Regions from separate parts of the Homo sapiens genome. Here all the other regions are linked to region 1. Evidence: fine-mapped expression QTL. A gene starts in region 1. Each other region holds a variant in brackets. All regions are shown on one strand. Distances are between the middles of the regions.

The links. PIP is the estimated chance that this variant, and not a neighbour inherited with it, causes the effect. A credible set is the group of variants that fine-mapping cannot tell apart.
Region 2: its variant is the best candidate, but not a certain one, in a credible set for the expression of GGCX in prefrontal cortex (GTEx, PIP 0.87).
Region 3: its variant is the best candidate, but not a certain one, in a credible set for the expression of GGCX in tibial nerve (GTEx, PIP 0.58).

What each region holds. Positions count from the first base shown.
Region 1 is chr2:85,560,222-85,562,978 of GRCh38, reverse strand. It overlaps GGCX (gamma-glutamyl carboxylase), which reads left to right and starts at 1,486. Exons shown (of 15, transcript NM_000821.7): 1 at 1,486-1,593; 2 at 1,994-2,164. The coding sequence starts at 1,551. RefSeq lists an enhancer at 1,283-1,512.
Region 2 is chr2:85,584,359-85,587,115 of GRCh38, reverse strand. VAMP5 (vesicle associated membrane protein 5) reads right to left here and starts at 2,685. Exons shown (of 3, transcript NM_006634.3): 1 at 2,623-2,685. The coding sequence starts at 2,625. RefSeq lists a silencer at 2,414-2,757 and an enhancer at 2,053-2,757. The variant A/G (reference allele first, on the strand shown) is at 1,493.
Region 3 is chr2:85,516,593-85,519,349 of GRCh38, reverse strand. No RefSeq gene overlaps it. Among named protein-coding and RNA genes, the nearest start is that of PARTICL, 21 kb to the left of the region's middle. The variant T/G (reference allele first, on the strand shown) is at 1,588.

The DNA of each region.
Region 1 (2,757 bases):
GATCTCCTGACCTCGTGATCCACTCGCCTCGTCCTCCCAAAGTGCTGGGATTACAGGCGTGAGCCACCGCGCCCGGCCAAAAAAATTTCTAATACGGCAAATATTGAAAGATATAATCCACATAAACAAAGCTTTTAGGGTCTTCTATAATTTCTAACACTGTAAATGGTTCCCAAGACCCAACTGTTTGAGAACCGCTTCTCTGGGATGCCTTCTTCTTTTCCTGCTGGCTAATCCCAGTGGAGAGATTTAGGTATTTAATTCTGCTCCAGACTCACCTCTGAGAACCTTCCCTGATGGGCCACACTCTACTCACTGCCCTTGCTCTGTATCCCCTCTTCAGTTATGTTGTTCCTGTTTCCCTGGCTGCTTTTAATTTTCTTTCTTTCTTTTCTTCCCGCCTTTTCTTTTCTTTCTCTTTCTTTTTCGTTTTTTGTTTTTTGAGACGGAGTCTCACTCTGTCGCCCAGGCTGGAGTGCAGTAGCGCGATCTTGGCTCACTGCAACCTCCGCCTCCTAGGTTCAAGCGATTCTCCTGCCTCAGCCTCCCGAGTAGCTGGGATTACAGGCGCACGCCACCATGCCCGGATTATTTTTGTATTTTTAGTACAGACGGGGTTTCACCATGTTGGCCAGGCTGGTCTTTAACTCCTGACTTCAAGTGATCCGCCCGCCTTGGCCTCTCAAAGTGCTGGGATTACAGGCTTGCTGCCGCACCCGGCTTGTTTTTTTTTTTTTTTTTTTTTGAGACGGGGTCTCACTGTGTCCCCCAGGCTGGAGTGCAGTGGTGCGATCACAGCTCCCTGCAGCCTCGAACTACTGGGCTCAAGCGAACCTCCCACCTCAGCCTCCCGAGTAGCTGAAACCACAGGAGCGCGCCACGACACACAGCTAACTTTTTTTTTAGTGTTTTTTCTTTTTTTGTTGTTGCCTTTTTTTTTTTTCTTTATCGATCCTCCCGCATTGGCCTTCCAAACTGTTGGGATTACAAGCGAGAGCAGTGCCCGGCCCCTACTGCTTTGAAACCTCGGTTCTTTGCAGGTCCTGGAAAAGAAAGTGAAGGGGTCGTGCAATGGCTCAAAACCCAGGCAACATTTCCAGGCGCGTCCTCAACTCGGCGTCACTCTGACAAAAAGTTTGCCCTTTGCGCCCGATCCCTCACACCAGAGAGCACCGCAGGGACGCAGGGACGGAGAGGACTAATGGGGTCGGGGAGGACCCAAGGAAGTTGGGGAACTCAGACTCTTTTCAGTGTTTAAAAAGCAGAGGCCCCCTCGGAAGGCATAACAGGCGAGTCTAACAATGCCCCTGGAGATCAACGGCACTAAGGGGTACCTTTGCCCCGCTCCAAGGCTCCTTGTTCCGCCCCCTGCCGCCAAGCAAGGAATCCGGCGCCGCCGGTCGTGGGTAGTATTTACGACAGTGCTGGCGCTTTGCGGCCGGCCGCACAGCCGCTGACGCGTCGGGAGGCGGAGCCTAGGGAAGCAAATTCTCCTGGCGGCCTCCGTTCAGACGCGGCAGCTGTGACCCACCTGCCTCCTCCGCAGAGCAATGGCGGTGTCTGCCGGGTCCGCGCGGACCTCGCCCAGCTCAGGTAGGCTTAGGACCCCGCCCTCCGGCGGAGAGTTCCTAGGAGCGCTGGTCTCAGAGGGGCGGGGGCGGGAGGACGCCCAGTGTCTCCCGGTGAGGCGGGGGGGGGGTCCTCTGTGGGGAAGGGGGCGTGCTGTGAGACATTTGCAGCCTGCGGCTTCTGAATGATGATGACATTCGGGAACACTGCGGTTAGGGGACTGTAGTCTGAGGGGTTCTGGGACATTAGGGGATCGTGGAGAGGGGGCTGCACTGCAGGGATGTTTCCTATAGTCAGATCATTGAGGCAACCTCATTGAGCCGACCCGGGTGGGCGGAAGCTCTGAGCTGTTGGTGCAGTGATTTCTTTGATTTGAGGTGGAGCCCACCCCCGCACACATATTTTCTCCATTTATTGATTGCAGATAAAGTACAGAAAGACAAGGCTGAACTGATCTCAGGGCCCAGGCAGGACAGCCGAATAGGGAAACTCTTGGGTTTTGAGTGGACAGATTTGTCCAGTTGGCGGAGGCTGGTGACCCTGCTGAATCGACCAACGGACCCTGCAAGCTTAGCTGTCTTTCGTTTTCTTTTTGGTGAGTCCAGTTTATGGGTGGGAGCAATTTGGTTGAGAGTGGAGAATGACAATCTCTATTTTTTGGTTGCAAGTAGACTTAGCTCCCTTTTCCTCAGAGCTGAAGACATTGGTATAAAAGAAGAGGTCTTTGCGAAGTTTAGGATTAAACCTGCTTTGTCTCCTACAGTTAGGATTTACTTGGTGGCCAGAAATGCTTTTTTTTTTTTCCTTAGACGGACTTTCGCTCTTGTTGCCCAAGCTGGAGTGCAATGGCGCTATCTCGGCTCACTGTAACCTCCGCCACCCGGGTTAAAGCGATTCTCCTCCCTCAGTCTCCCGAGTAGCTGGGATTACAGGCGCCCACCACCACACCCGGCTAATTTTTTATTTTTTTTGTATGTGTGTTTTTAGTAGAGACGGGGTTTCACCATGTTGGCCAGGCTGGTCTCAAACTCCTGACCTCAGGTGATCCGCCTGCCTCGGCCTCCCAAAGTGCTGGGATTACAGGTGTGAGCCACCGTACCCAGCTAGAAATGCTATATGATATGTAGAGGCGAGGCAGCAGTGACCCATTTTGCTTGTGGCATGAAGTTGCCCAGAAGACTCAGAGAA
Region 2 (2,757 bases), 24 kb before region 1:
TGGTAACTAGCATCTAGTTTATTTTCTTTCTTTTTTTTTTTGAGATGGTGTCTCACTCTGTCGCCCAGGCTGGAGTGCAGTGGCGTGATCTCCACTCACTGCAAGCTCTGCCTCCTGGGTTCACGCCATTCTCCTGCCTCAGCCTCCAGGGTAGCTGGGACTACAGGCGCCTGCCACCACGCCCAGCTAATTTTTTGTATTTTTAGTAGAGACAGGGTTTCACCGTGTTAGCCAGGGTGGTCTCGAACTCCTGACCTCGTGATCCACCTGGCTTGGCCTCTCTCTCAAAGTGCTGGGATTACAGGCGTGAGCCACCGCGCCCGGCTGCATCTAGTTTATTTTCATCTGGCACGGCAGGCTGTTGAGGTTTTACATCTTGAGCAAGAATAACAGCCACCATCCAATGGGCACATACTCTGAGGTAGGCACTATGCTGCTTGCTGTTCATTTGCTCTGTCTCATTTAATCCTCACCCAACAACCCATTGAAGGCCATATTATTAACCCAGTTATTTTGTTTGTTTGTTTGTTTGTTTTTGTTCTGAGACAGCCTTACTCTGTCACCCAGGCTGGAGTGCAATGGCGCGATCTCAGCTCACTGCAACCTCCGCCTCCCAGGTTCAAGCGATTCTCCTGCCTCAACCTCCCGCATAGTTGGGACTACAGGCGTGTGCCACCACACCCGGCTATTTTTTTATATTTTTAGTAGAGACGGGATTTCACCATGTTTGCCAGGCTGGTCTTGAACTGTTGAACTCGTGATCTGCCCGCCTCGGCCTCCCAAAGTGCTGGGATTACAGGTGTGAGCCACTGCGCCTGGCCTTTTCCCAGTTTTATAGGAAACTTTGGCTCAGAGGTGTTAAATCACCTGTCCAAGATCACAGAGCCAGTGAGTAGAAGATCTGGGAGTTGAACCAACACAGACTCCAGGCACCACATTTGTAACCCGTGTGCTAAATTAGATGCAGGTACAAGGAGGTCAGACACTTTAGCTGATTGGCTAAAGAATCTGGTTGATGCTACCAACCTAATTTGTGTGCATATGAGGGAGGCCTGTGGCTCAACACACACATTCTTTGGAGAGAGGATCATCTACAAGATTAATGAATTCAAGTAATTATTCATTCCATTTCCATCTTTCCCATCACTGCTTTGTTCCTGCTCTGTCCCCTATACTTGTCACCATGCTGGCATGAAGGACATTTCCAAGAAATCCTTGTTGGTTGAATGAGTCATAGAGAAGAAAAGAAAAGTGAAAGGAAGAAGGACCAGGGAGGGAAAGGGGATGGGTGGAAGGAAGGAAAGCGCTAAAGGGGCAAGAGTGAAAGAAGAAACAGGAAGAGGCTAGGAGATGGATGGGTGGAGGAGCGACCTCCCCAGCCTCTCCTCCACAGACTGCCTCAAATGTACCCGTGAGAATCCCCAGGTTTCCCAGTATCCTCCTCCCCCAATAAAATATCCTGCCTTCAGCCTTCACTTCAGGAGCTTCTCCC[A/G]AAGAGCTAAGGGCCGGCTGAAGCCCACCCCTACCCCTGCCTGACCCCTTGCCCTGCACACCCTTAAGTGGGCTCTGGGCTCTGCCCTATTCTCAGAGCCTTCCTCAGCTTCCTGGCCTGGCCTCAGAGCTCAGTGCTACCTTCCTGCCCCACTTCCTCTTCCTGCCTCCAAGTTCCCTGGAGATAAGGCCATCCAGGCATTGACCCCTAGCCAGGCCACATCCATCACACCTCTGTCAGTTTCTCCAAGGCAAAATCTTAAAGCACCAAGCCTACTTCCTGCCCAGTCCATTTTCCCAGGAGCCCTAGGGAAAGGGAGAAACTGGCACCAGCTGTTCCTGACATCTTTGCCTTGGAGATGGCAAGTGAGGACAAAGGCCAGGATCTGCAGCAGGAGTGGGGATGACTCAACTCAGGAATGTGTCACTAGGTAGAGGTTAGCAGGGAGTCAGGCCTGTGCCATACACTGATAACTTCAGTGGAACTTTCAGAGTAAACATCTCCCTTTCTCTTTCTCTAGGGGAGGAGTTCGCCCTCCAACACCCTGCCATGGGGCTGGAATGGCCTCTGCCACCCCATCTGCTCAAGTTTCCAACTCCTGAGCCAGGCTTGGCTCCTCACAGCTGCGGAAAGGGCTGACGAGGTCGTTACATTTCCTACCACTTCTTAGCAGTGGGTTCTGAGTGCCAGGCGGGTCTCTGCCACTGTGGCTCCTTTAACCTCGCAAGGACCCAACAAGGCAGGTATTACTGACCCCACTTCACAGACGCGGAAAAGGAGGCTCAGGGAGGTTAAGTGACTTGTCCCGGGTCACAGAGCTGGGATCCCAGCCCGGAGTCCGACTCCAAAGTCGGTGCTCTTAACCGCTTTGCTTCAGGAGAATGGGGAGCCCGAGTCCCGCTCGCTCTGCGCGGTGCAGCCAGGACGGGGCTCACGCATTTCTCTCCCATGCGGCGCGCAGGGAGTGGAGGGTCCGCCCCGTCCTGCTCCAGCAGTGGTCACCGCCTCAGGTCTGGCCCTCGTGGGCCCCAGGGGAGGCCCCAGCCCGCGGACTTTGGACTCCTCTCTCCCACCCTCGCCACTCGCCCTCTGCCCGTCGCAGGGCTGGCCGGCCCCGCCTGGGCCCTCACCATCGCTGCTGCCGCCGCCGCCTCGCCCGCTCCCGGCTTCTCTGCCTGCGGAGCGGCCGCAGTGCCAGCGGCCCCGGAGGAAGAGCAGGGGCGGGGCGGGGCGGGCCGCCGAGCGAGGGCGGGGGGCGCGCCTTC
Region 3 (2,757 bases), 44 kb after region 1:
AAAGTAGAATCCTTTCTTCTATTTTTTTCTACTCTACACATTGTCTTTATAATAATAATTTAAAAGAAGGATGTAATAGTGAAAACTAGTGAGTGAATCCCTAAGGCCTTTCGTGACTTTCTCCTGGAAACTGACCTATTTTGATACTGTCAGCTCGATAGGGTATCCTGGCATAACTTTTCTGTCTAGGAAGGAGCTCAGTTTATTGACCACTCATACATCTTTTTGAGAAGGCACATTGATCCTTCAAGAAAATGATCCTCCAGAAATTGTGATTGGTACAATTTGTAAGCAAAACCTCTTGTTAAAATCAGTAAGTTAGGCCGAGAGCGGTGGCTTATGCCTCTAATCCCAGTACTTTAGGAGGCTGAAGCAGATGGATCACTTGAGGCCAAGAGTTCAAGACCAGCCTGGCAACATGAAAAAACTCCATCTCTACTAATACAAAAATTAGTCGGGCGAGTTGGCCCATGTCTGTAATTCCAGCTACTCAGGAGGCTGAGGCACAAGAACCGCTTGAATCTGGGATATGGAGGTTGCAGTGAGCCAAGATCATACCACCATACTCCAGCCTGGGTGACAGAGCGAGACTCTGTCTCAAAAAAAGAACAAAAACAAAAAAACCCAAAACAGTAACTTATAGAAATAAGCTAGTATTGTGCAGAAACCTAGTTACACCTTGCCTAAGCTAAAATCTTAGTCACCTTTGGGTCACTAGCACACTCTTTTTCTCCGATCACATGCAGTCATAAAATCTTGCCAATTCATCTTTTCTGATGTTTCTCCTGCCCATTCCTTCATTGTTTTGGGGCCTTTTCCACGTCATGCCTATACCAAAAGGGACTGAAACTTAAAAGTTCCCTGTCTGAGTTCCTCCCCATTCTAACTCACCATTCCTGGATTAATCTTTAAAAAATAAAAACTAGGCTGGGCGGGGTGGCTCACGCCTGTAATCCTAGCACCTTGGGAGGCTGAGGCGGGCGGATCACCTGAGGTCAGGAGTTCGAGACCAGCCTGGCCAACATGCCGAAACCCTGTCTCTACTAAAAATACAAAAATTAGCCAGGCGTTGTGGCATGCGCCTGTAGTTCCAGCTGCTCCAGGGACTGAGGCAGGAGAATTGCTTAAACCTGGGGGCAGAGGTTGGAGTGAGCTGAGATCGCGCCACTGCACTCCAGCCCGGCTGATAGAGCAAGACTCCATCTCAGAAAAAAATAAATAAATAAAAATAAAAACTAAAAGAATAGCAACAACAAAACCCACATCTAAAAACTGTTTTTCTCATGATACCTCGCTTCTTCTCCACTCTCAAACTCATTGGCTTCCACAGAGTAAAATTCAGATCATTTAGCCAAGGCACATGAATCTCTCCCCAAACTCCTTTGACTCCTATGGCCATCTCTGCAGAAGCTTACACAAACACACCCCATTTGAAGGACAGTTTCAGGGCTCAGGACCCCTGCAGCTGGCGAAAGACCATGGGTTTCAAGTGCCTGCTCTGTGACAAGGCTTTGCCTTCCCAGGTTATCATCCCCTCTCTGCACTCCCAGCCCCGCAACATGCCACGTTCTTCAGACACATCCAGCC[T/G]GTCTTGGCCTCCACAGCTTCATTTTCTTTTTGTTTCTTTTTTTTTTTTTTTTTTCTTTGAGACGGAGTCTCTCTGTTGCCCAGGCTGGAGGGCAGCCGCATGATCTCGGCTCACTGCAACCTCCGCCTCCTGGATTCAAGCGATTCTTCTGCCTCAGCCTTCGGAGTAGCTGAGATTACAGGGACGCGCCAGCATGCCCCGCTAATTTTTGTATTTTTAGTAGTGACAAGATTTTACCATATTGGCCAGGCTGGTCTTGAACTCCTGACCTCAGGTTATCCACCCATCTCAGCCTCCCAAAGTGCTGGGATTACAGGCGTGAGCCATCATGCCCTGCCACAGCTGCACTTTGGGCATCTCCCTGCCCAGAACCCACCACTCTGCTGTTTCCAGGTCCCAACCACCTTTCAGGGCCTCTTCTCATCTAAACCTTCTCTGACTACCTTGGCCTTTGTGCATCTCCCCTTCCTCTTGACTTCTGTCCTGGCCCAGAAAATACAGGTCATTCTGTGCAGGCTGCCCAACTGGATTGCCAGGCCCCAGAGGGCAGGGATGATGGCGATCAGGTGGTGCAGGCCCTTCCACATCTTCTTTGCCTGTAGGTGTTGCCTTTCAGGACATGATGGTGAACATGATCATGCAGGAAAAATAAATAAATGAAAAACAAACATTAATACAAGAATCATTCTCTCTTTTTCTATTGCAGATTAGGCCCTCCTTCTGTCTCCCCCGACCCTCGCCCCCCCACCCCCAATCTGCTACAAAATATCCAGTATAACTCCTTTATCCTTTCGTGTGTAAAATAAGGAAGCTAAATTCTAGAGAATAGAGAAGTTGAAAAAGTAAACTAATACATTTCCTTTAATGACTCAGCCCAGGAAAGGTAAGCAAACAACTTGGACTTCAGACAGAGGTCGATAGCTGCTGATGGAGGTGATCCAGGCACTTCCGAGGCTGTGCAGGAAGGGCCAAAGCCGGTGCCTGGGAGAGCCGGATAGGTTTCTGCTGCTAAACCAAGTCTGCAGGGTGAGTTGATAAAGGAATGCTGATTCCCAAAGAAACTAAGGGTGCCAGATGGGACCTCTGTCACCATCTCTGAAATACCAGTGGGTTAATATTGCATAAGCACGAATGCTTTTTAAAAAATGCACATACACACACATATATAT